Regions from separate parts of the Homo sapiens genome. Here region 2 is linked to region 1. The links come from fine-mapping of genetic effects on gene expression. Tissue or cell type: whole blood. Region 1 holds a variant in brackets; the other region holds the start of a gene. All regions are shown on one strand. Distances are between the middles of the regions.

What was found.
Region 2: it holds the start of UBE2O, and the variant in region 1 is fine-mapped to the expression of UBE2O in whole blood (TOPMed, PIP 0.98).

The regions. Positions count from the first base shown.
Region 1 is chr17:76,421,940-76,434,137 of GRCh38, forward strand. The region is part of intron 1 of UBE2O (ubiquitin conjugating enzyme E2 O); the gene reads right to left. It also overlaps the pseudogene RPL7P49. Among named protein-coding and RNA genes, the nearest start is that of UBE2O, 25 kb to the right of the region's middle. RefSeq lists enhancers at 596-1,097, 1,098-1,597, 11,922-12,198. The variant G/A (reference allele first, on the strand shown) is at 6,272.
Region 2 is chr17:76,446,455-76,458,652 of GRCh38, forward strand. UBE2O (ubiquitin conjugating enzyme E2 O) reads right to left here and starts at 6,698. Exons shown (of 18, transcript NM_022066.4): 1 at 6,271-6,698. The coding sequence starts at 6,687. It also overlaps a transcript of AANAT not described here. RefSeq lists silencers at 6,050-6,249, 6,370-6,909, 6,704-6,872 and an enhancer at 12,165-12,198.

The DNA.
Region 1 (12,198 bases):
TCCAATGGATCTGCATCCAGAGTGCTCAAGGACCACAAATCCCAGGTGGAGGAAAATGGGAAGATGGAGATGTCTCAAAGGATCTGCTGTGTCCTTCCTTTAAGGGACAACCAAGCCACAGGAGGGTCAGGCAGGCCTGTGGTGATGTTTTTGAGACCTCTATGTGTGATAAGTAATGGGACGTGTGCTAAGTAACCCCAAAATGCTAGTTCTCGTGGCCTCTCTCTCCGGCTTTTCCTCAATGGCTCCCAACTATTTCAGTCACTCCACTCATTCACAGCCTGAGTGGTCCTGAAAGGGAAGATGATGTGTGGAAGCACGACCTAAATGAACAACACGGGGAGAGGGCATGGGCAAAGGGCGGCTCACTTTAACCTGGCTTTTCCCAGGCTGAGCTCAAGTCCCATCTCTCCTCCAGCAAGGGCTTGACACAGACACAACCTGCTCTGTCATAAGGTCTGGGCACCCAGTGGCCTCTTCCTCCCGTTCATCATATGCTGTAGACCATCCATTCAGTTGTTCCCTCGCCCATTCAGCAAACTGAATAACCACTGGGTGGGCAGACGCTGTGCCAGATGCCAATGAAACATCTGGAACACGAGACAGTCCTGCAGGTGTCCGAGCAGGACGGAGGTTCCATCTGCAATGAAGCCGAGGCACGCCAGGCTTGGGGAGGTGTGGCCACCACAGGGAACAGCCATGGCTCAAATGTTCCCCCAGATAGCTGCACCCAAGTTTCTGCTCAGATGTCACCTCCTCAGAAGGGCTTCTCTGGCCACCCTGTCTGGAATTGCTCCTCCTCATTCTCTATCCACCTGCTTTATTTTTCTTCACAGCACTTACTGTTCCCACACCTGCAGTCTGTGTGCCCCATGGGGGTTAGAATGTGAACCACACAAGGGCAGGCACTGGGCACCAGTGCACCCCAGCAAGTGCCTGGAACACAGAAGGGTGCCTCTGAGGAGTCACTAGAGACAGCTGAAGGAAAAGCCATGGGAATTGGGAACAAGTGTCAAGAAAGGAGTGGCTAGCAATGCCTGATGCTGCTGAGAGATCCAGTGCCACGGGGAAGTGTCCCTGCTGACCTGGGCTCAGCAGTCCCAATGGGTGGCGTGGGCAGAATCCCCAATGGCGGGGCCTGGAGAACATCTGGCAATGCAGGAAACAGGAATCACAGCATGGAGCTCATTCAGGAACTACGGCTGAAGAGCAGGAAAAGGAGGAAGAGGTAGGTGAGGGGGTGGATGTGGGCTGAGGAAGGGTCTCTTTTCAAGACATTAAAAATGGGGTCAAGCTGGGCACGGTGGTACGCACCTGGAGCCCCAGCTACTCAAGAGGCTGAGGTGGGAGGATTGCTTAAGCCCAGGAATTCGACGCTGCAGTGAGCCCTGATTGTGCCAATGCACTCCAGCCTGGGTGACAAGAGTAAGACCCTATCTCTAAAAAATAAATACAGTAAAAATAAAAATGAGGGCCCGGCGTGGTGGCTCATGCCTGTAATCCCAGCACTTCGGGAGGCCGAGGTGGGAGGATCATGAGGTCAGAAGATCAAGACCATCCTGGCTAACATGGTGAAACCCAGTCTCTACTAAAAATACAAAAAATTAGCCAGGCATGGTGGCACGTACCTATAGTCCCAGCTACTTGGGGGGCTGAGGCAGGAAAATCGCTTGAACCTGGGAGGCGGAGCTTGCAGTGAGCCGAGATCACAACACTGCACTCCAGCCTGGGTGACAGAGGGACACTCCATCTCAAAATAAATAAATAAATAAATAAATAAATAAATAAAAAATAAGGTCAGGCAGGAAGCTGCCAAGGGAGAGCCTGAAGATTCAGGCCCAGGACATAATTGATAGAGGTGGCCTACGGCACAGTGTCCGCAAAGGAACCAGAACACAGGAGAGGAGACTTCCTCTCTTCACACCAGGTGGCTCTCAGCTACTTCCAGGTTGGGTTCTTTTTTTTTTTTTTTTTTTTTTTGAGACGGAGTCTCGCTCTGTCACCCAGGCTGTAGTGCTAGTGCAGCGGCGCGATCTTGGCTCACTGCAAGCTCCACCTCCCAAGTTCACGCCGTTCTCCTGCCTCAGCCTCCTGAGTAGCTGGGACTACAGGCCCCCGCCACCATGCCCAGCTAATTTTTTTGTATTTTTAGTAGAGACGGGGTTTCACCATGTTAGCCAGGATGGTCTCGATCTCCTGACCTTGTGATCCGTCCGTCTCGGCCTCCCAAAGTGCTGGGATTACAGGCGTGAGCCACCGCGCCCGGCCTTTTTTTTTTTTTTTTTTGAGACAGAATTTAACTTTTGTTGCCCAGCCTGGAGTGCAATGGCACAACCTAGGCTCACTGCAACCTCTGTCTCCCAGGTTCAAGCGATTCTCCTGTCTCAGCCTCCCCAGTAGCTGGGATTACAAGTGTGAGCCACCACACTCTGCTAATTTTTTGTATTTTTGTAGAGACAGGGTTTCACCATATTGGCCAGGCTGGTCTCGAACTCCTGACCTCACGTGATTCGCCCACCTCAGCCTCCCAAAGTGCTGGGATTACAGGCGTGAACCACCGTGCCCAGCCCACTAGTATTTTTTATATTCGTTACATTCTGAAATGGTATCTTGGATATATACTGAGTTAAATAAAACATTAAAATTAATTTCTGGCTGAGTGAGGTGGCTCATGTCTGTAATTCCAGCACTTTGGGAAGCCAAGGTGGGAGGATTGCTTGAGGCCAGGAGTTCAAGACCAGCCTGGGCAACAGAGTAAGACCCTATCTCTACATAAAAAAATGGCAGCAGGATCCCTTAAGCCAGGTGTTTGAGGTTACAATGAGCTATGATCGAGCCACTGCACTCCAGCCCGGGCAACAGAGCAAGACTCCATCCACCTCTACCTCCAAAATTAATTTCACCTGTTTCTTTTTTTTTTTTTATTTTTTATTTTTTTTTTTTGAGACAGAGTCTCGCCCTCACCCTGTCACCCAGGCTGGAGTGCAGTGGCGCGATCTCAGCTCACTGCAAGCTCCGCCTCCCAGGTTCATGCCATTCTCCTGCCTCAGCCTCCCGAGTAGCTGGGACTACAGGCACCCGCCACCACGCCCAGCTAACTTTTTTGTATTTTTAGTAGAGACGGGATTTGACCATGTTAGCCAGGATGGTCTCGATCTCCTGACCTCGTGATCCACCCGTCTGGGCCTCCTGAAGTGCTGGGATTACAGGCGTGAGCCACCGCACCCGGTTCACCTGTTTCTTTTAATGTTTTTAAAATGTGGTCACTTCTCAAGGTCCTTTCGACAAAAAAAAAAAAAAAAAAAAAAAAAGTAAAAGAAAAAAATGTGGTCACTAAAAAATTTTAAAGGACCTACTTGGCTCATATTGTATTTTTTTAAATAATAGTTTAGCTTAATTGTATCAAAACAATGCATGCCTAAGTTAAAAAAAAAACATAGTACTAAAAGGCTTAACAAAAACAGGCAGTCCCCCATCTTACCCTCTCAACTGTGCTCTTTTGAAGCAAATACTTTTTAATTTTTTAGCTGTTTGAATATTTACCTCCATACATATAAACAACATGCTTGCACCCTAATTCCTAACTTATTATAGACATTATCTATTGACGTCCTGTTTTGGTACCTGATGACCTAACTCTTACCCTCCCCTCTGAAGCCCTTTGCCTGTACTCCATCCTTTCAACAGTTCCACTGCATTAATTGAAAAATCTAAATGTGTTATGATGGAGGACAGAGCTCACAGCTGAACCAAGTGGTGTTCCGTGTCCTCACACAACTATGTACATATTGATACTTTTGTCAAATACCTATCCATAACTTTTCTAAATATCTTCAAATTACCTACAAATTATCGATCAGGTATCTTTGGGCTTTGTGTCTTTTTCTTGTCGATCTCTCTCCCTCCTGCAGAATTCCATCCTGTCTCTCTAACTCAGACTTTCCTCTGCCGCTCACCTGTGTCAGATCCCGTTTCCTGGATCCTGGGAAAAGTCCCTGGTTTTGGTGAAGAACAACTCCTTCTATCTCCTCCCCACAAGAGGTTCACAGGAGGCACTTTTTTTCCAGCCCTTACATGCCTAAAAGGAGGGTCTCACTCTGTCACCTAGGCTGGAGTGTAGTGGTGTGATCATGGTTCACTGCAGCCTCAACCTCCTGGGCTCAAATGATCCTCTTACTTCAGCCTCCTGAGTAGCTGGGACTACAGATGCACAACACCACACTTGGCTAATTTTTGTATTTTTTTGTAGAGACAGGGTTTTGCCATGTTTCCCAGGCTGGTCTCGAACGGGGCTCAAGCGATCCTCCTGTCTTGGCTTCCCAAAGTGCTGGGATTACAGGCGTGAACCACCATGCCCAGCCAAAAGAACTTTTTTCTACTCTACTTGACGTAGTTGGGCTGGATACGGAATTCTCTCAGAATGTTGCAGGATTTGCTCTGCTGTCTTCCAGTCTGAGTACCTGTCTTAACTGGCACATATAATTGTTTACTTTCATTGTGATCCATGTGGATTTATTTCTACTACCTTTAGGGCTTTCTGGCTACCATATTTTTTCTTTGCTCTCTTTCTTTTAGACAAATGACCTAGTTTTAAAATTCCATATTTTTACCCTCTGTGAGTTTGAAAGCTTTAAACACTATTTCTATTCTTTTGGTGGTTACCCTTAAAATTGGAACATGTCTACTTGACTCAGAAAGTTTGAAGTCAATCAATATCCCTCCTACACTTCCCAAACAGTTCAAAGAACTTAAGAGTGTGTTCATTCAAATCACCCCCTCACTGATTTCCATTTTTTGTTGGGACTTTGGTTTTTAATCCTCTCCAAATTAGTGACGATCACTTTCAGAAGCGAATGCTTATTCAGATTTACCTGCACTTCCCAACGCCTCTGGATACCATTACTGTCCGCATTTCTCCTTTCTCCTTACTTCCTTCTTCCCGAAGTACAGCGAAGGTCTCTTAGTAAATACAACTTTTTTTTTTTTCTGTGAAAATGTCCTTATTTGTTCCCATTATTGAACGATAATTTAAGCTGGTTGCTGAAAACTAAGCCAACAACTGATTTTCCTTAGCACACTGAAGATTTTACTTCCTTATGGCCTCTACTGTTGCTACTTGGCATTTCCTGAGTTTCACTGTTGAACCTGGGGAGTAATCTGCCTTTCTTCTCAAGCTGCCTTTAGGATGCTATTTTTCCCACTGGGCCCTCATACCACCATCCATGTTTGTAATGTCTCTTCCTCACAAGCATCTCTTTTATCTCTGCAGAATTCTAACTAACTTCTGCAGATCTGTTTTCCAGTTCCCATAGTTCTCTCTTGAGAATTTATGCTATTTGCTGTTTAACATTTCCACTGGGGTTTTAACTCAATGTTTTCACTCTAGAGGCTTTATTTGATTCTTTAAAAAATAATCCCTTTTAAGATGTATTCTGTCTTATTCTTTCCTTTGACATCTATTTCTTCTTTTAGCCCTTCAATCACTTTAGACATTTCTATTATAATCTCTTCTATTATTTGAATTCTCATGTTGAGAATCTTGTGTTTGTTGTGATCGCTGACTCATGTTCTAATTTCTACATGCTTGGTAATTTCCTAGAACAAGCTCATCATCTGTGGGCATCCTAGGATTCCAAAAGGCCTGTACTGTGCAAGGGTCACTCTAGAAAAGTTCTGCCTTTGTTCTGCAAGCAAGAAGCTTCAGGGGTATCGCCAGTCTGCTGGCTGGTCTGGTGCCAGCTCGGGCATTCCTGCAACATGTAGATGTTATAAACACAGACTTAGAACTTGGATGTTTTCCACTGTTCACAGAAGACTTCCTCCAACACAATCCAGAGTGTGGGGCAATGATCAGCTCCCTTGACATTTCTCTGATCCCATGGGGGAAATTTTCTTGCATCCCTTTTACCTGGGAATGGCTCTTTTGAGGGGATTTCTGTTTCAACTCCATGCTTCACGTGTTCATGCAAATCCAAACCTCTATTATTGTTAGGGTCGATTTCAGGGTCCAATGAACCCACCTTGCCCCTCCCCAGAGCTGCCTACTCTGCTCTGGCTTTATATTCCTGCTTTGCTTTCGGTTCTCTGTTTTTCTTTCTTATTCTGTTGTTATAGCTTATATAGCATTTTAAGTGATTGTAATGGGAGCGGTTCTAACTTTAGCTCAAGCTACCATGTCACTGAAACAGGAAATCCACCCCATTGTCTTCTGGCTTCCAATGAGGTTGAAAAATCCAATCCATCTTCATTCCCAGTCTTTTGTATGTGACCC[G/A]TTTTTGCTCTTCGGAAGCTTTATGCCCAGTGCTCTGGAATCACACAATGTGCCACAGGACATTTTCCATTTACCATTTTTGAAACTTATGACTGTCCATTCTGAAATAATTCTTGTTTCTCTGATACATTATGGTCCTTAATTTTCCCTTTCTCTCTTTATAGACTTCCTAGATGTCAGACGTTTTTAATCTGTTTCCTGGGAGCCTTCGTCAACTTCAAAGAAAAAGTAATGGTTTTAATTTCCGAGAACTCTTTCTTGTTCTGATTTTTATAGTAACTTTTTATTTCATGGATAAAATATTGGCTCTTCTTTCTGAGTATATTTGCCATGTGCTTTAAGGCTTTCTCCTACCTGAATCAGCTCTGATTCCTCGGAGATACATTTTTCTCTTTGCTTTCTCTGGCCTCTACCTTCCATACTGGAAGCTTTCTGAACATATCCAGTTATTCTTGGCATCCATTCCTATTTAAAAGTGAGGCAATAAGAGATCTTTGTGGTGATGGAAGAGTTGTGTATCTTGACTGCTGTTACATGTGGTTACATGAATCCACAGATGTGATAAAGGGTGTGAAACTGTATGCACATATTGTGTACCCATGTCAATTCCCTGATTTTCATATTGTCTGTGATTATATAAGACATGACCATCAAGGGAAACTGCATGAAGGGTAGAGGGGACCCCTCTACTATTTTTTTTTTTTTTTTTGAGATGGAGTCTTGCTCTGTCGCCCAGGCTGGAGTGCAGTGGCATGATCTTGGTTCACTGCAACCTCTGCCTCCTGGGTTCAAGCAATTCTCCTGCCTCAGCCTCCCGAGTAGCTGGGATTACGGGCGCATGCCACCATGCCCGGCTAATTTTTGTATTTTTAGTAGAGACGGGGTTTAACCATGTTGGCCAGGCTGGTCTCGAACTCCTGACCTCGTGATCTGCCCGCCTCGGCCTCCCAAAGTGCTGGGATTACAGGCATGAGCCACCGCGTCCAGCCAGCCCTCTACTATGTTTGCAACTTCCTATGCATCTATAATTATTTCAAAATAAAAAGTTGGGCTGGGGATGGTGGCTCATGCCTGTGATCCCAGCACTTTGTGAGGCTGAGGTGGGCAGATCACTTGAGCTCAGGAGTTTGAAACCTGCCTAGGCAACATGGCAAAACCCCATCTTGACAAAAAACACACAAATTAGCCAGGAGTGGTGGCGCATGGCTGTAATCCCAGCTACTTGGGAGGCTGAGGTGGGAGAAGTGCTTCAGCCTGGGAGGCAGAGGTTGCAGTGAGCCAAGATTACACCACTGTACTCCAGCCTGGGTGACAGAGTGAGACTCTGTCTCAAAAAAAAAAAAAAAAAAAAAAAGTTAAAAAAGTTGAGGTGATAAAAAGATGATAGAAACCCTGTGAACATAAGCAAGGCTCTGGACAGGTGAGGACCACATTAGATGGAGTAGAAAGCTGGCCACTGCTGTGAGGAGCCACTACATACTGGCAATGGCAGGTCTTGTTGCTGACATGCTCATTTTTTCCAGACTGGAATCCAATGCCATGCCTCATGCCTGGCCTCAGCACTCCAGGAGCAGGCAGGGGCATGGCTGGGATTTGCTCTTTTAGTGTGCAGACGTTCATGAATCCCTCTTTCAGTCCAGCGTTACCCTGCCCCTTGCTCTGCCCAAGGTACCTCAATCTGGTGCATAAGCCTCTGCTCTCTCACTCGCCAGCAAAGGGGATTGAGTATTTTCTGGTTTGCAGAATTCAAAGAGATGACTTGGGAAGTTTCATCCCTCCCTATACAGACTGTCAACTAATCATAATCCCTCTGCTTTTAGGCCCAAACCTTATTCCCACCTTGAGTGCCACCAATTGCCTCCAATTCCTGATGCTTTCTAAAGTGCTTTTCCTTGGTGTTTTTCCGCAGGTACCAACATTTCAGCCTCTGCTCTGCTCAGTCTTCTGTTTGCCTTCCACCTTCTAGAAATTGGAGATCTTTTGTTATTGTTTTCTCTCCCATTCTGTGTCCTTGTGGGTTTATACATCTAAAAACAATTATTTTGCTGTTATTTTAGCAGAGTTTCTAGGGGAAGTAGATTTAAATGAATATGTTCAATCTACCATGTTTACCTAAAGTATGCTAACCGAAGATTTTTTTTTTCAATTTGAGAGCAGGTACTATTTATTAACTGACCAGATTAGAAAAATAATCACGGTAGACACCGCAGTTCATTCTTCTAAGAAGCCTGTGGATCTGGCCCTCCCTGTTGGCAGCAGCTCCATTTTCTACAAAATGGGTGGTCTTTTTCTTCATTCCACTTTGTGGAGAGGATAACTTGAAGGGCCACAGTATAGAGCTCATGAATCAGATCCTCGATGCAGATGATGCCATATTGACCATGAGACTGATCAATCAAAGTGTTATCTGTCAAAGCAATTCGCTTCTTATTGATTTTGCCACGGCCATGCTTGTAGATGAGTTTATTTACTGATTTCAGATTTGGGTTCCCCTTGTAATACATGGTTTCACAATCCTCAGCATGTTAACTGAAGGTCTGCTGAACTTCACAAAGGTTCCATTAAAGATCTGACAAAGGCAAAGAAGCTGCAACATCTTTTGGCCCTTTGGGCTCACACCACTGATACCTCTGACCCTGATGACAAATGCCAATTCGGGTTCTGCAGGCACAAAAAAGTTGCCAGCTTTTCTTGCCATCCTAGCCTTTCAAATTTCAGTTCTGTACATCTGCCTAGATTCCTTGTGGTAGTGCTTCACTTCTTCGTGCATAAGTTTCCTCCCTGCCTTTTGAAGCATCTTTTGGGCAAACTTCTTATTCAGGTGCTTGATCTTTAGTTCTGTGAAATTCCTTTGCTTTTTCCCAAGGGTTTCTGGCACAACAGGAAGCTGCTGCTTCTCTTCGACACCCTCCATGGTTCCAGCCAAAAAAGAGGCAACCGGAGGTTTTTAATCTTTGTTTTGCAAAGTACTTATATACAACTAGATCTGAAGATGAAGGAGAAGTAATAAGTCAACAAAAGCCGGCCACGGTGGCTCATGCCTGTAATCCCAGCACTTTGGGAGGCTGAGGTGGGTAGATCACTTGCAGTCAGGAGCTCAAGAGCAGCCTGGCCAACATGGTGAAATCCCGCCTCTACTAAAGATACAAAAAAAAATTAGCTGGGCGTGCTGGTGCACGCCTGTAATCCCAGCTACTTGGGAGGCTGAGGCAGGAGAATTGCTTGAATCCGGGAGGCACAGGTTGCAGTGAGCCGAGATCGCACTCCAGCCTGGGCGACAGGGTGCTCTGTCTCAAAAAAAAAGTCAACAAAACCCAGGAAATCACAAATTCAAAAATTAGCCATCCTTAGTTCAGACATTCACCTACTCACCAATTCATTTTGATGGACTCTCCTCATGTTGCTATTCTGAGATGTGAAATAGTGGGTAGGGAAAAGAAAGACTATTAGGGCCAGACACTGTGGCTCACACCTGTAATCCCAGGAGCTGGGAAGCCCAGCGGGGGGGACTGCTTGAAACCAGGAGTTTGGGACCAGCCTGGGCCAAGACTCCATCTCTATGAAAAAGTAAAATTAAGAATAAAAAATTTTAAAAAGAACAGCTCCATTAGAAACTCCCCCAGACACCTGAAAGGGCCACACATCCGCTCCTACAAATGGCTTTTTGTTTCAAATGTTAAAGAAAGTTTAAGTCCCATGGATTGCTGTGATCTAACCATGACAGTCAGAACTGATCCAGGCTTAGGGTGGAAGACACTCCCTGTCAGTGTCACGCAGCAGGCATGGATAAATCCACACTTTACACACTCACAAAATTAGATTAGATTCTTAAAAGGCTAAACTAAAAACAATCACTGAGAAAGTCACCAAACATAAATAGCAGCACATGTGCCCCTCAGCAGACAGCCACACAGCATGGAGAATCTGTGAGGCAGCAGCAGCCAAGAGCCTTTGGAAACTCAAGGCCCCCTATCGCCAGGCACACACACCCGACACTCTCATGCACATTTCGGCACAACCATGTCTTAGACCCGTCAAACTGCTACGGAAAGGACTCAGTTATCAAAGTATGTTCCTGTCAATCCACAAATATTTCATCATCCCACTGTGTAAGAAGTACTATAATTGTACTATGAGAGAGACTCAAAAGAAATAGATTGTATGGTCTCCGCCTTAGAAAGACTTATACCCAGCATGCCACGGTACATGTGACTGGTAAATATTTGAAAGCTTGCCCACTGTCCAAGAAAACCTATTTAGCAACCCCTTTCTCATCCTAGGATGCTTGTGGAGCCCCAGATTTAAAACAATTACATCTGTGTTCCTGGAAAGACTTAGGACTTAAAGCCCTTTCAGTTTCTAAGGGTCTTAAGCATACTGAAATAGGAAAGGGGGTTAAATCCCAACATAATGCAAAATGGCTAGCACAGATCCCAATGACACTGACAGGCACCTGCCACAAGAGGTAGCCCACCTGCGAGACTCCATGGGAGAGAGGGAAGATCCAAATGCAGGGTGTAATAAGCAGACCAACAGAAAACTCAGTTCAAAAATAAGCACAGGACTTATTTGAATAAACATTTATCTAAAGAAGATATACACATGGCCAATAAGCACATGAAAAGATGCTCAGCATCACTCATCACTAGGAATGCATGCCAAATCACAATGCAATACCCATGCATGCCCACTAGGATGGCTATAAACAAAGTGACAGTCACAAGCATTGGTGAGCATGTGGAGAAACTGGAACCCACCAACATTGCTGGTGGGTATGTAAAATGGTGCAGTTGCTTCAGAAAGCAGTTTGGCAGTTGCTCAAAATGCTAAACATAGATTTACCTACCATACGACCCAACAACTCCTCTCCTGGGTATAATATCCAAGAGAATTGAAAATATACATTCACACAAAAACGTGGACTTGAATGCTTATAGCAGCATTATTCAGAATAGCCAAAAGGTGAAAATGACACAACAACAAATGTCCATCAACTAATGAATGGATACACAAAATGTGATCTATCCATATGATAGAATATTATTCAACAATAAAAACAAATGAAGTACTGATACATGCTACAACATGGATGAACCTTGAAAACATCACGTTAAATAAATCAGTCACGAAGGCCACATCTAGTATGCTTCCATTTATATGAAATGTCCAAAATAGGCAAACCCACAGAGACAGAACATGGCTTCCAGGAGTTGGGAGGGGTGCAGGGAAATATGGTATGACTCCTAATGGGTATGAGGTTTCTTTTTAGGGTGATGAAAATGTTCTAAAATTAGATAGCGGTGATGACCGTACAACCGTTTGAGTATACTAAAAACCACTTGAACTGCACACTTTAAAAGGGTGAATTTTATGGTATGTGAATTGTCTCAATAAACCTTTTTTTTTTTAAGAGATGGGGTCTCGATCGCTTGAACCCAGGAGGTGGAGTGAGTATTGCGCCACTGCATTCCAGCCTGGGTGACAGAGCGAGACTCCATCTCAGAAAAAAAAAAAAGAGAGAGAGAGATGGGGTTTCGGCCAGTGCGGTGGCCTGTAATGCCAGCACTTTGGGAGGCCAAGGTAGGAGGATCGCTTGAGGAAAGGAGTTTGAGACCAGCCTGGGCAACATAGTGAGATGGTGACTCTACAAAAAACTTAAAAAGAAATGAAAATTAGCCAGGCGTGGCGGTGCGCGCCTACAGGCCCAGCTACAGTGTTTCCTGTAAATCCTGTGCTATCAATTCTATTTTTCAAGTCAAATACCAGAACTTGTCTCAAACTATACTCACCAGAAGACAAAAACGAGCCCTCCTAACATCTTCTACTCTTAGAAATTAGATGAGTGTCCTCCTATAGACTTTTATTTCCTAAGAAAGAAGTCTGTTTTCTTTGTCTGTGGCTTCCATCCATCTTACTTAACCACGTAA
Region 2 (12,198 bases), 25 kb after region 1:
AAACAAACAAAAAAAAAAACCAAACAAACAAAACAGAGAGAAACAGGGATAAAAGTGAAGTAGAGATGGGGAAGGTGCAAAGAGGCCTCTAATGTCCTAAAGCAAAAACACACGGAAACTGAAGGGAACAGAAACTGAAATTGAGGTGGAACTCAGCCTCTCCAAGGAATCCTTCCTGAACCTGTCTCATGACTCAGCATTCCCAGCCGAAGGATGACAGCAGCAGAGCGGACAGGAGGTCAAGTTGGAGCTCCTAATGGAGCTGACCACTTCTGAGGCAACACAGAAATGCCAGTTACGTGGAGTGTCTGCACACTTGTTTTGCTCTAGGAGGTGGAGTTGGGGAATAAAACTGAACTGCAGTTCAGTGTTGGAATGAATCAGACTACAGAGGTTGCTTCATTCAACATTGAGGGGCAGTCAAAGGTTCTCTAGAAATGCAATGTGTTTTTGACAGTTATTTTGAGAATGACTGAGGGGTCAGGGAATGAAAAGAGTGGAATCTGCAGAAGCACACCGCCAGTGCGAATGCAGTGTTCCTCCCGTCCTGCTCCCTACCCATCATCTCCCTCCCTCCTGCCTGCCCACTGGCACAACTTCCACCTATCCCAACATCCTGTGCCTCTCTCCTTCCTCACTTGTAGTACCTCCTATTACACTAAGACTTTCAACTGTTTAAAGAAGGGATGATTAATGCCAACCACAAGGCTTGTGATTCATGTTGGATCAGGGCACTCGGTCACGTATAGTAATGATCTCTGAATCCTGAACTTAAGTATTCTCAGGTGAGAACAAAGTACATTTAGTTCAATTTGTATTCAGATTCCTCCACTTAGAAGTGTGACACTGGGCAATTTACTTAACCTCTCTGTTCCTCAGCTTCCTTCTCTGGAATATGGGGCTAATAATAGCACCACAGGGTTGTTGTGAGCGTGAAGTAAAACATCTAAAGCACTAAGAGTGCCTGGCACACAGTAACAGTATCCTGGATCATGACTGCTCTTATTACCTTAAAATATAAAGCAATACTCTATCATCTTTGTAATTTATAATCTCATTACCAGTCTTGAGAATTTCAAGAGACCTTTCAGACTCTGGAAACATACATACATACATACAGATTCATTCCATCCCCCTCCTGGAGGACGGCCGGGGTTACTTTAAATGTGCATTACTGAATTTCTCACAAAGTAACAGAGGTAGGAAGTTCATGAGTATTTCTAGAAGAGGTTTAATAAAGTCAAACCTATAATCCATCTGGTCACTAGCAACACGAGCCATTAGGAATTCCTATGCCCCTGAAACAACCACCTTCCCCACAACCCGCCTCGTGCACCTTTTGCTTCCCAAGGTGCCTCTTTGGTGCAGCATCACCCTCTTTCTCATGGAAGTGATCTTCTGAAGGCACAGGGCTGGCTCTCTCTGACAGACATCAGAATGCTGTCTGCTAATAACCAAGTGGCCATCCTAGGCTTGACCCAGCTACACTTCTGGTTATTCCATCCGAGCAGGATCATATCGGGGTTAGGAAGATAGACCTCTTATTTCATTGCAGAGGGAGAAAATGAGGCAGTGACTTGGTCAAGGTCATTCAGAGTAGGTGACAGCCAGGAAGAGCACCCAAGGGTTTTGGCTTCCAATCACAGTACAAAACACACACCCTTCATCTGGGGAAAGTACCCTTGAGTCAGGCAGCAGCCAGACAGAAGCACCATCAGGGCACTGAGGCCCGAGGGCTAGAAGGGGAAAAATCAAGGGACAAAGAATAAAATCACAGAACAGCTGTTAAGAGTCTACAAGTGCTGTGATCCTATCTGAATAAAACGCAATTTAGATTCACTTAGTCCTGCATCTTGGTTAACCTTATATAACTTCTTCACATTACATCACTAAGAACAATTGCTTTTAATGGGCCCAGCACCCAGACAAGTGAGACAAACTTCACGTGCCATGATGCTACACCTAAATAGCTTTCCCCATGGAAATGCTGGCCAGCGTAGGAGCCAAAAATAAACTGCAAAGCCAATTCCCGAGGGACCTGTCATCAGGGATGTTTCACACACACAGCTTCATAAAAGCAGGGTGATCACAGACAGCCCTAATTTAGAGGCACTATATCTCAAACCTGGTGAAACCCTGAATGTCATGGCAACTTAAAACAAAAGACAATGCAAAAGAGATGAAAAAGCACAAGAAAGCTAAAGCATAAACGCTTTGCCTCCGAAACGAAGGCTGAACTTGAACTGACAGACAGCAGTCCTGCTCCCTTACCTCGCAGGGGGCTGTTCTGCCCAACCATGACAGGTGGAGACCAGAAGGACCCACCACGTCTAGCCAGTGCTCATGAAGGTTTAAGTGGCTGCTGGCATTTGGCTTTGTTACAAAATTTTATTCAAAGGATGACTGGTGATGGGGAAGGGGCAAGCCTCCTCTAAGGAGATCCATGGCCAGATGGACAGTTTCAAGTGGCTACCTCGCTGAACAGGTCAGAAGACTGGAGAAAGGAAGAAGCATATAAGAGACACTGGCCACTAGCTCCTTTTGAGTCCTTAAGAGGCTTAATTTTGGTGGCTGGAAGCCTCAGGAACACGACAAATTCCATAGCTTCATGGAAGAACTTACTTTGTTTCTGTTGCTATTTTCATGAAGGCAGCAGGGAAAGGACATGACTTGCTGCCCAGTCTCTTCATCTCTCTTTGTAAATTTGTTCACTAAAAACTTGAGACTAAGATTAAGCCTTTACTCATTGCCCTCCAATTTACAGAGAAAACTACAAAAATACGCCACACCCTATGAAACACTCCACATTAAATAGATACTACTAAAAAATTTCAATGGGGCAAGGCACTGTGGCTTATGCCTGTAATTCCAGCACTTGGGGAGGCCAAGGCCGGTGAATCACTTGAGGCCAGAAGTTCAAGACCAGCCTGGCCAAAATGGCAAACTGCCGTCTCTACTAAAAATACAAAAATTAGCTGGGTGTGATGGCGCATGCCCATAATCCCAGCTATGCGGGAGGCTGAGGCACAAGAATCACTTGAACCCGGGAAGTTGAGGTTGTAATGAGCTGAGATCGTGCCACTGCACTCCAGCCTGGGTGACAGAGAGAGACTCTGTTTAAAAAAGAAACTCACACACAAAAATTTTCAATAGGTAGCAGCTTATTAAAAAAAATAAGTTTCGGGCGGGTGCGGTGGCTCCTGCCTGTAATCCCAGCACTTTGGGAGGCCGAGGCGGGCGGATCACCTGAGGTCAGGAGTTCAAGAACAGCCTGGCCACCACGGAGAAACCCCGTCTCCACTAAAAATACAAAAAATTAGCCGGGCGTGATGGCGTATGCCTGTAATCCCAGCTACTCGGGAGGCTGAGGTAGGAGAATCGCTTGAACCCGGGAGGCAGAGGTTGCGGTGAGCCGAGCTGGCGCCATTGCACTCCAGCCTGGGCAACAAGAGCAAAACTCCGTCTCAAAAACATAAATAAATAAAAAATAAGTTTCTCAAAACCATCACTACTGTAGTCCCAGCTACCTGGGAGGCTGAGGCAGGAGGATTGTGTGAGACCAGGAATTCAAGGACACCTGAGTAACAGTGAGACCCCATCCCAAAAATAATAAACAAACCAGTAACTCAAAAAAAAAAAAAAATCTGCCACTACATTATTTTGTCAATAATTGGGTTCTCAAATCTCATAACTAGATTAGTCAATCTTGGTCTAATGGTCTTTCCTTTACGGCATACTATCACCTTGATGGAATTCATAAGGAGCAGGAGGTGAGAAGAAAAATCATCCTAAGCCACAGTTCTGCAAGGTCCCAGGACCCACCCTACCACCCTGCTTGGTGGTCAGTAACAGACCAGGAGACATTCAGCTAATCAGTCACCTGTATCTATAGCTCATGGTAACAGAGCTACCTATCAGGTATAAACTCCACCCTCCAAAACAAACCTATTCTAAATCCTAAAAGAACTATATCTTGCCACCCATAAATGGGCATCCCATTCCACCACTTCCTTGGAATTTCTGCGTCCCTTGGCTTTTGCTAAACCCAGATGCTACAATGACAAAATACCACCACCGAGCCACAAAACGGATTTCAACAAATTCAAAGCAAGTCACAGGAGGCCAGCTGCAAAATCTATCCAAAGTGGTGCCTCAAAGTTGTTGTTTTTTTTTTCTTTTCTTTTGAGACAGAGTTTAACTCTTGCTGCCCAGGTTGGAGTGCAATGGTGCCATCTCAGCTCACCGCAACCTCCGCCTCCCTGGTTCAAGCAATTCTCCCGCCTCAGCCTCCCGAGTAGCTCAGGTTACAGGCATGCGCCACCAAGCCCAGCTAATTTTGTATTTTTAGTAGAGACAGGGTTTCTCCATGTTGGTCAGGCTGGTCTCGAACTCCTGACCTCAGGTGATCCGCCCGCCTCGGCCTCCCAAGTGCTGGGATTACAGGCATGAGCTACCACACCCGGCCGTTGTTTTCGATTTAACTCCAAAATAGGTATTTCAAGTCAAACTCTGTATAATTACACATAGTGCAGGAGGCAAACGGAGCATAACTGCAAACAAAGTTAACCACCAAAGTCAAGACGGACGGGAACAACAACTGATAAACATAGCGGCTCCCAGTAGTGAGCTGGGCCTACCTCCCTGAGTCCTAGGGCAGGAGGCCACAACACAGAGGATGCTGCAGTCAAATGAGTTGCGTTCCAAAAATCACGAATCTCTCAAATAGATGGGTGGTGAAAAACATTCTTAAAAACTCACAGAAAGACACCAGCAATCATCTGGTGTCACACAGTATACAGCAATAACCCTCTTTTACTGACACAATACTGGGTAATTTTTAACAAGCATTCTGTTGCACAAAAGTAATATTTTCCAAATACTCTTGTAAATGGACTGATAATTTTCCTTCCAAGTCTCAGAGCTGTTGCCTGATTCACATTTCTCTGAGGGGAAGCAGGGTCCTGTGTGTGGATTTGTGTCTGTGGATGTATGTGCATCCCCAACAAAAAGACCCCGCTGGTATCAGCAGTCACTTCTGCCTCTAGGAAATGGATCATGTGCTCTTCTCTGGAGTGGGGCCTTTTTCCTTCTCAAGCCGTTGTCACAGACCCCGCTTTGTAGTTTGACATGAAACCCCGTTCCTCTGTAGTCTTTGTCTCCCACTGTGTGAGAAACCCAGATCAACTTCCAAAGTGCCCTCCCCTGAAATCAGACCTCTCAACCTCCCAAGGACCTAAAACAGCGTAGGCCTGATTCCTGCTTAGAAATGTTTTCTTGAAGGGGAGGGGAAGTAGGAGAGAAAGAAGGGGTGTGAGATACAGGGGGGTGTGTGTGTGTGTGTGTGTGTGTCAATTACTGATAGGAATTCACATTCTGGAAAACAAGCCACCAAACCAACCCGGGTTCAAGGTTTCGGGTTTATGATGACAAGCCTCTTTGTTTTGTAAAACTGCTATACTCACTAGCATCACCCCAAAAACCATACGGGAGTCAGATGTCTGCTTAACAGCTTCAGGTCAAGAAAAAACCTTCGGGTTTCCAAATTGGTGACTCCCCTCTACCCAGGGTTCTGGATTATTTTTTTCAAGGAGTCCATATGCACTTAGGAGTCATCAATCCCGGTCGCAGCTGTCAGAATCCTCCCCCCCAAGTACTATTCATACCGGGGCTCTGATTGCTAATGATTTTACTCACAAAGTTCCCTGCAGCAATTAAAAGGAGGCAGCAGGGTAAAACAAAAAGAGGCTGGGTGGCTTCACCATAATGCAGCCTGTAAGCTAGTGAACTTCTTGGGTTCGGCTGGGATTTTCACCTCTATCTTTGTTTTGGAATGCCCACAACCCCTCCCTGCACGGACCCGGCACGGCCTTCATTTCTGGATGCACAATGCAGTACCGAGCTCCTTGGGGGTCAGCAAAACGCCGCACTGGTGTAACGCCGAACGCGCCCCAGAACCTGAGTCCCCACGGGAGTCGGTCCACGTCTCTAAATCTCGAGGCCGACACCACAGCATAACATGTCTTAGAAGTCCCCTCAAGTCGGGAAGCCCAGGGCCCGCCCGGTCCCGGGCCAGCAGTGCCTGGCTGGCGTGTGCGCCCAGAGCTGCTGCAATGACTTTGCATGGAGTGTACCCTCCACTGGGGCTGTCCTCCCGCGTCGGCCACTGCAGTGGCACCGCTCCGGGCAGGGCCCTGCACGCCGTCCTTCCCTGGCCTCGGCCCGGCCGCCGACCCCCTGCCGCCCGCGCCGCCCAGCCCCCGCCCGCCGCACCTTGGTCTCCTTCACATGCTGCTTGACGCCCTCCGGGTACCACTGGACGCGCACGTAGCCGCGGCGCAGGGGGCTGGCCCGGCCCTCCTCGTGGCCCGCGCCCCCGGCCTCGGAGCACCCCGAGCTCCCGCGGCCCTCCTCCTCGCCCTCCGAGTCCGAGTCCTCGCCGTGGATGAGGCGCACCAGCCCGAAGTGCACGGAGCCACGGTAACGGCCCGACACCAGGTCGTGAGAAAACAGCAGGCGCTGCGAGCCGGCTTCTGGGCCGGAGTCCGAGGACGGCCCGGAGGCCGAGTCCGAGGCGGGCGCCGGCGCCGGGACGGGGGCTGCGGCTGGGGCCGGGACTGCCTCCGGGGCTGGAGCCGGGGCCTGGGCTGGAGCGGGAGCTGCGGGCGTGGGGGCTGCGGGATCCGCCATAACTGCTCTGCGCGAGTCTCGGGCGGCGGCGGCGACAGCGGCGGCGAACGAGGCGCGGGGAGGCGGGACCAGCGGGCGCCGGGGGCGGGGCCATAGCGCGCTGACGTGTCCCTGCGTGGCGCCGTCGTCAGGGAGCCGGGATGCAGTTGCTAGGAGCCACCGCCTCGTCGCTAGGGGACGCTGAAGATGCCGCGGGGGGCGGGGGCAGGATGGAATCCACTAAGAAGGGGCGAGACCAGTGAGGATTCAACTAAAGGGAGCGAGAAGGGGCGGGGACCCGGGAGGAGGAAGTGGAGTGGCCACCGAGGAAGAGGGGAGTGGTCGGGGTGGGGCACAGGATGGTGGAGAGACTGTCAACAACTTTTAATGAGCTCCCTTGGCGTCCTAGCCTAGCCCCCAGGCACTGGGAGCATTGCAGAAAGAGAAAGATACTGTCCCTGTCCTCTAGGTGTTTCCAGTCTAGTTGGGGAGACAAAACAAATACACATTAAATAGATAACAAACAACTCCAACTTGTAAGGCTATAATAGATACGTGTAGAGCATATGTATAATGCACTGTATTCAGGAATTCCAAGCAGTTCGAACGTCATGACCCCTCAGAAGTTGACCCAGAAGCTGGTGAAGGAGGCCCAGAGAAAGGTAACAAAAGGATCAGTGGTCCCAGTGGTTTGGCTACAAATCCATGCAGATAAATTCAAAGCTCCCTGAAGCCAAGAATGAATGGCAAGAGGTAGTATAGTAAGGTAGCTAAGAGTGGGGACCACGGATTCCAATTTTTGGCACTGCCACTTACTAATCTATAAAAATAGGCACACTGATTAACTTATTTTCATCTTAATTTGCTCATCTGTGAAATAGGGATGATAATAGCAATACTCATCTCATTGGGCAATTGGAGGATTAAGTGAAGTAGAACAGTGCCTGGCATTTAGCTCCTTCGATAAGCTTAACCATTGTTGTACTATTTCCAAACTCCCTGCCTAGACTAAATTCCAGACTGGCAGAACTGTTATGGTCTGCTCCATATTGTCATTTTAAAATATAAAAAGTAGGCCGGGCGCGGCAGCTCACACCTGTCATCCCAGTACTTTGGGAGGCTGAGGTGGGCGGATCACGAGGTCAAGAGATTGAGACCATCCTGGCCAACATGGCGAAACCCCATCTCTACTAAAAATACGGAAAAAAAAAAAAAATAGCTGGGCGTGGTGGCACATGGCTGTAGTCCCAGCTACTCAGGAGGCTGAGGCAGGCAAATCGCTTGAACCTGGGAGGCTGAGGTTGCAGTGAGCCCAGATCGCGCCACTGCACTCCACCCTGGGCAACAGAGCAAGACTCTGTCTCAAAAAAATAAATAAATAAAAATAAATAAAATATAAAAAGTAACTCTAGGGCCAGGCGTGGTGGCTCATGCCTGTAATCCCAGCACTTTGGGAGGCAGAAGCAGATGGATCACCTGATCACCTGAGGTCAGGAGTTCAAGACCGCCCTGGCCAACATGGCGAAATCCCTTCTCTACTAAAAGTACAAAAATTAGCTGGGCGTGGTGGTGTGCACCTGTAGTCCCAGCTACTTGGGAGGCTGAGGCAGGAGAATTGCTTGAATCTGGGAGGCAGAAGTTGCAGTGAGCCGAGATCATGCCACTACACTCCAGCCTTGGCAACAGAGCAGGACTCTGTCTCAAAAAACAAAAAACAAAAAAAAGGCTGGATGTGGTGGCTCTTGCCTGTAATCCCAGCACTTTGGGAGACCGAGGCGGGTGGGAGACCCGAGGTCAGGAGTTCAAGACCAGCCTGGCCAAGATGGTGAAACCCTGTCTCTACTAAAAATACAAAAATTAGCCGGGCGCGGTGGCAGCCGCCTGTAATCCCAGCTACTCGGAAGGCTGAGGCAGGAGAATCACTTGAACCTGGGGAGTGGAGGTTGTAGTGAGCCTAGATCGCGCCGCTGCACTCCAGCCTGGGCGACAGAGTGAGATTCCGTCTCAAAAAAAAGTAACTCTAGGCCGGGCACAGTGGCTCACGCCTGAAATCCCAACACTTTGACTGCGCCTGAAATCCCAACACTTTGGGATGCCAAGGTGGGTGGATCAGTTGAGGTCAGGAGTTCAAAACTAGCCTGGCCAACATGGCAAAACCCCATGTCTACTAAAAATCCAAAATTAGCTGGGCAAGGTGGCAGGCGCCTGTAATTCCAGCTACTTGGGAGGCTGAGACACGAGAACCACTTGAACCTGGGGGTTGGAGGTTGCAGTGAGCCTAGATCACACCACTGCACTCCAGCTTGGGTGACAGAGTGAGACTCTATCTCAAAAGAAAAAAACTAACTCTAATTTAATGTGTCACCTAAGTTTCAAAGGGTTTAGATACATTCTCAGAGGACAGATTTAAATGGATTGTTAAGGAAAACAAGATCTGGCCCTAACCTTTCTCAGTCAACATCATTTTTTCCACATTTTTCTACACGATCATCAACGAAAGACTAGTAAGTTGGATATTACAGTATTTAGGTTCTTCAAAGAAGGCAGAATCCCAGCTCTTTGTGTTGTTTACAGGATCCTGAAGATACAGAACTATGTTCATAGAAAAGTTGGTTGGGTGTGGTGGCTCACATCTGTAATCCCAGCACTTTGGGAGGCCAAGGCAGATGGATCATTTGAAGTCAGGAGTTCAAGAGCACCCTGGCCAACATGGTGAAACCCCGTCTCTGCTAAAAACACAAAATTAGCCAGGTGTAGTGGCGCATGCTTGTAGTCCCAGCTACTCGGGAGGCTGATGCAGGAGAATCGCTTGAACCCGGGAGCAGGAGGTTACAGTGAGCCAAGAACACATCACTGCACTCCAGCCTGGGCGACAGAGCGAGACTGCGTCTCAAAAAAAGAGAGAGAAAAGTTAAAAGAACATGCACAAGGTCGGGCACGGTGGCTCACGCCTGTAATCCCAGCACTTTGGGAGGCTGAGGCAGGCGGATCACTTGAGGTGAGGAGTTCAAGACCAGCCTAACCAACATGGAGAAACCCCATCTCTACTAAAAATACAAAATTAGCCAGGCATGGTAGCCCATGCCTGTAATCCCAGCTACTCAGGAGGCTGAGGCAGGAGAATCACTTGAACCCGGGAGGTGGAGGTTGTGGTGAGCCAAGATCGAGCCATTGAACTCCAGCATGGGCAACAAGAGCAAAACTCCATCTCAGGAAAAAAAAAAAAAAAAAGAACATGCACAAAACAGATGGCAGCCTAAGTACTTAAGATGTCTTAGGCCAAGTACTAATAGAGTATTGATGTAATATTGGGATCAGGGTGGTTGTCAATGGACCCAAATCTTAGAAAATTTATCTACTAAGATATAGAACAAATGGGCTGAATCAGCTGAAGGGGGAGTTAGGATATGATTTTGGGGCAAGGCTGGGTTCTCAAACCATGGCCTTCCCATCCCAGAACACAATGCCAAATGACCATCTGGAATCACTGCTGTAAGGACGCAGGTCCCTACTCCCTCTCCTGTAGAGACCTGGGAGATTAAACAGCAGTAACATAGTAGCTTCTGTTCTGCCTCCCATGACCCTTTCAGCCCTGTTTTCTTGCCCCCTGATAACATAGCATTTATTAAGCACATATTATTGACCAGGCATTGTACCAGGTACTTCCAAGCACATTATCTTGTCTGTTATCACAATCTTGGATATAGAGAGTTTTTAACCTCATTTTACCAATGAAGAAATAGGGCCCAAGGAATTTGGCGCCTAAGGTAACAGGTAGTAACCTGAGGAGTTTCCCCACTCTAAGGGCAGGGGCTTTTGTAGTTATGCTATTTCTTTAGGCTTCCCTCAGAAGAACTCCTGATTGCACAGGGGAGTCCATGTGTCTATGTGTCCCACGGCGGGATAAGGCAGTGCAGACCTCAAATCTGCTTTTTGTTTCATGGCAGGGTCTCACTCTGTCGCCCATGCTGGAGTGCAGTAGCGTGATCTTGACTCACTGCAACCTCCGTCTCCCAGGTTCCAGCGATTCTCCTGCCTCAGCCTCCTGAGTAGCTGGGATTACAGGCGCCCACCACCACGGCTGGCTAATTTTTGTATTTTTAGTAGAGACGGGGTTTACCATGTTGGCCAGGCTGGTCTCGAACTCCTGACCTCAAATGATCCACCCGCCTTGCCCTCCCAAAGTGTTGGGATTACAGGCATAAGCCACCGCACCCGGCCTCAAATCTGCTTTTGTTGTCAAAAAATCAAGTGAGTTTTGCATTGTACTCCAGAGTATGCCTATGTTTGTTGTTTTAATGTAAAAACTAATGCCCTTTCCTCCCTAATCATTGAGTAATATCGGCACTCCTGGAAGACGTGTTGTGTTTATTCTGCGGCTTCTTGTAATAATGGCTAATAATAGCTATCACTTATTGAGCTGTAACTTCATGCCAGATACTCTACTAAGTGCTTTACATAGATTATCAGGATACTGCCAGGTTGGAGGTAAGACTCCTTGATTTTACATGCTGATCTCTCCCTCACTAGACTAAACCCTTAAGCATGTGGACCATGTTGTATTTGTGTGTGTAACCCTGGTGCCTAGGACAGTACCTGGCATAGGGATGGAGCTCAATAATGTGTCGTATTAGGCTAGGCCCATACAGTGGCTCACGCCTGTAATCCCAGCATTTTGGGAGGCCAAGGTGGGTGGATCACCTGAGGTCAGGAGCTTGAGACCTGGCCAACATGGCAAAACCATATCTCTACTAAATATACAAAAATTAGCCAGGCTTGGTGGCGGGCGCCTGAAATCCCAGCTACTCAGGAGGCTGAGGCTGGAGAATCACTTGAACCCGGGAGGCGGAGGCTGCAGTGAGCTGAGATTGTGCCACTGCACTTCAGCCTGGGAGATAGAGCAAGACTCCGTCTTGAAAAAGAAAAAAAGAAAATTATCATGTTAGCGGATATCAAAGGCCTGAGAACCTGTACCTCCATTCTGTCAGTTTCCTATCCTTTTTCCAACAACCAAAAGTTGAAGAAGCTGGGACAGAGCTGCCCTCTTTGGCTGCTCCAAATCCTTTCAAGTGCCCCCAGTTTCAACTGCATCTGAGCTGCTTTAGAGAATGAGACTCAGTAAATTCCTACCCATCCGATGGTGTCTTTTATGGACCTCACTCAGACCCAAGATGCTCTGGATAAGGTTTGAGGCTTGACTCCTTCCCAGACCCTGAGCCCCCAGCCACGGTCTCCATACACTCAGGCTGGCTAGCAGGGTAAGTGTGGATGGAAGCCGCTGCTTAGTTTTTATTTTTGTCATTGTTGAGGTGTAGGAAGGAGGAAAAAAACTTGATTCCCTAATGAAGAAACCCTCTCTTATCATGGCCCCATCTCCCAGCCTTTCGTGGGGAATAGAGCTATTTCTTGGGAGGATTTCACTTATTTATAAATGTGCTTCCAGAAACTGAGCTGGTCTGGCCTCTCCCCTTGCTAAGTGGGGTGGGTGGTGTGCAGGAGGCGGCAGAGCCAGCAGCAGAGTGAACTGGTCTC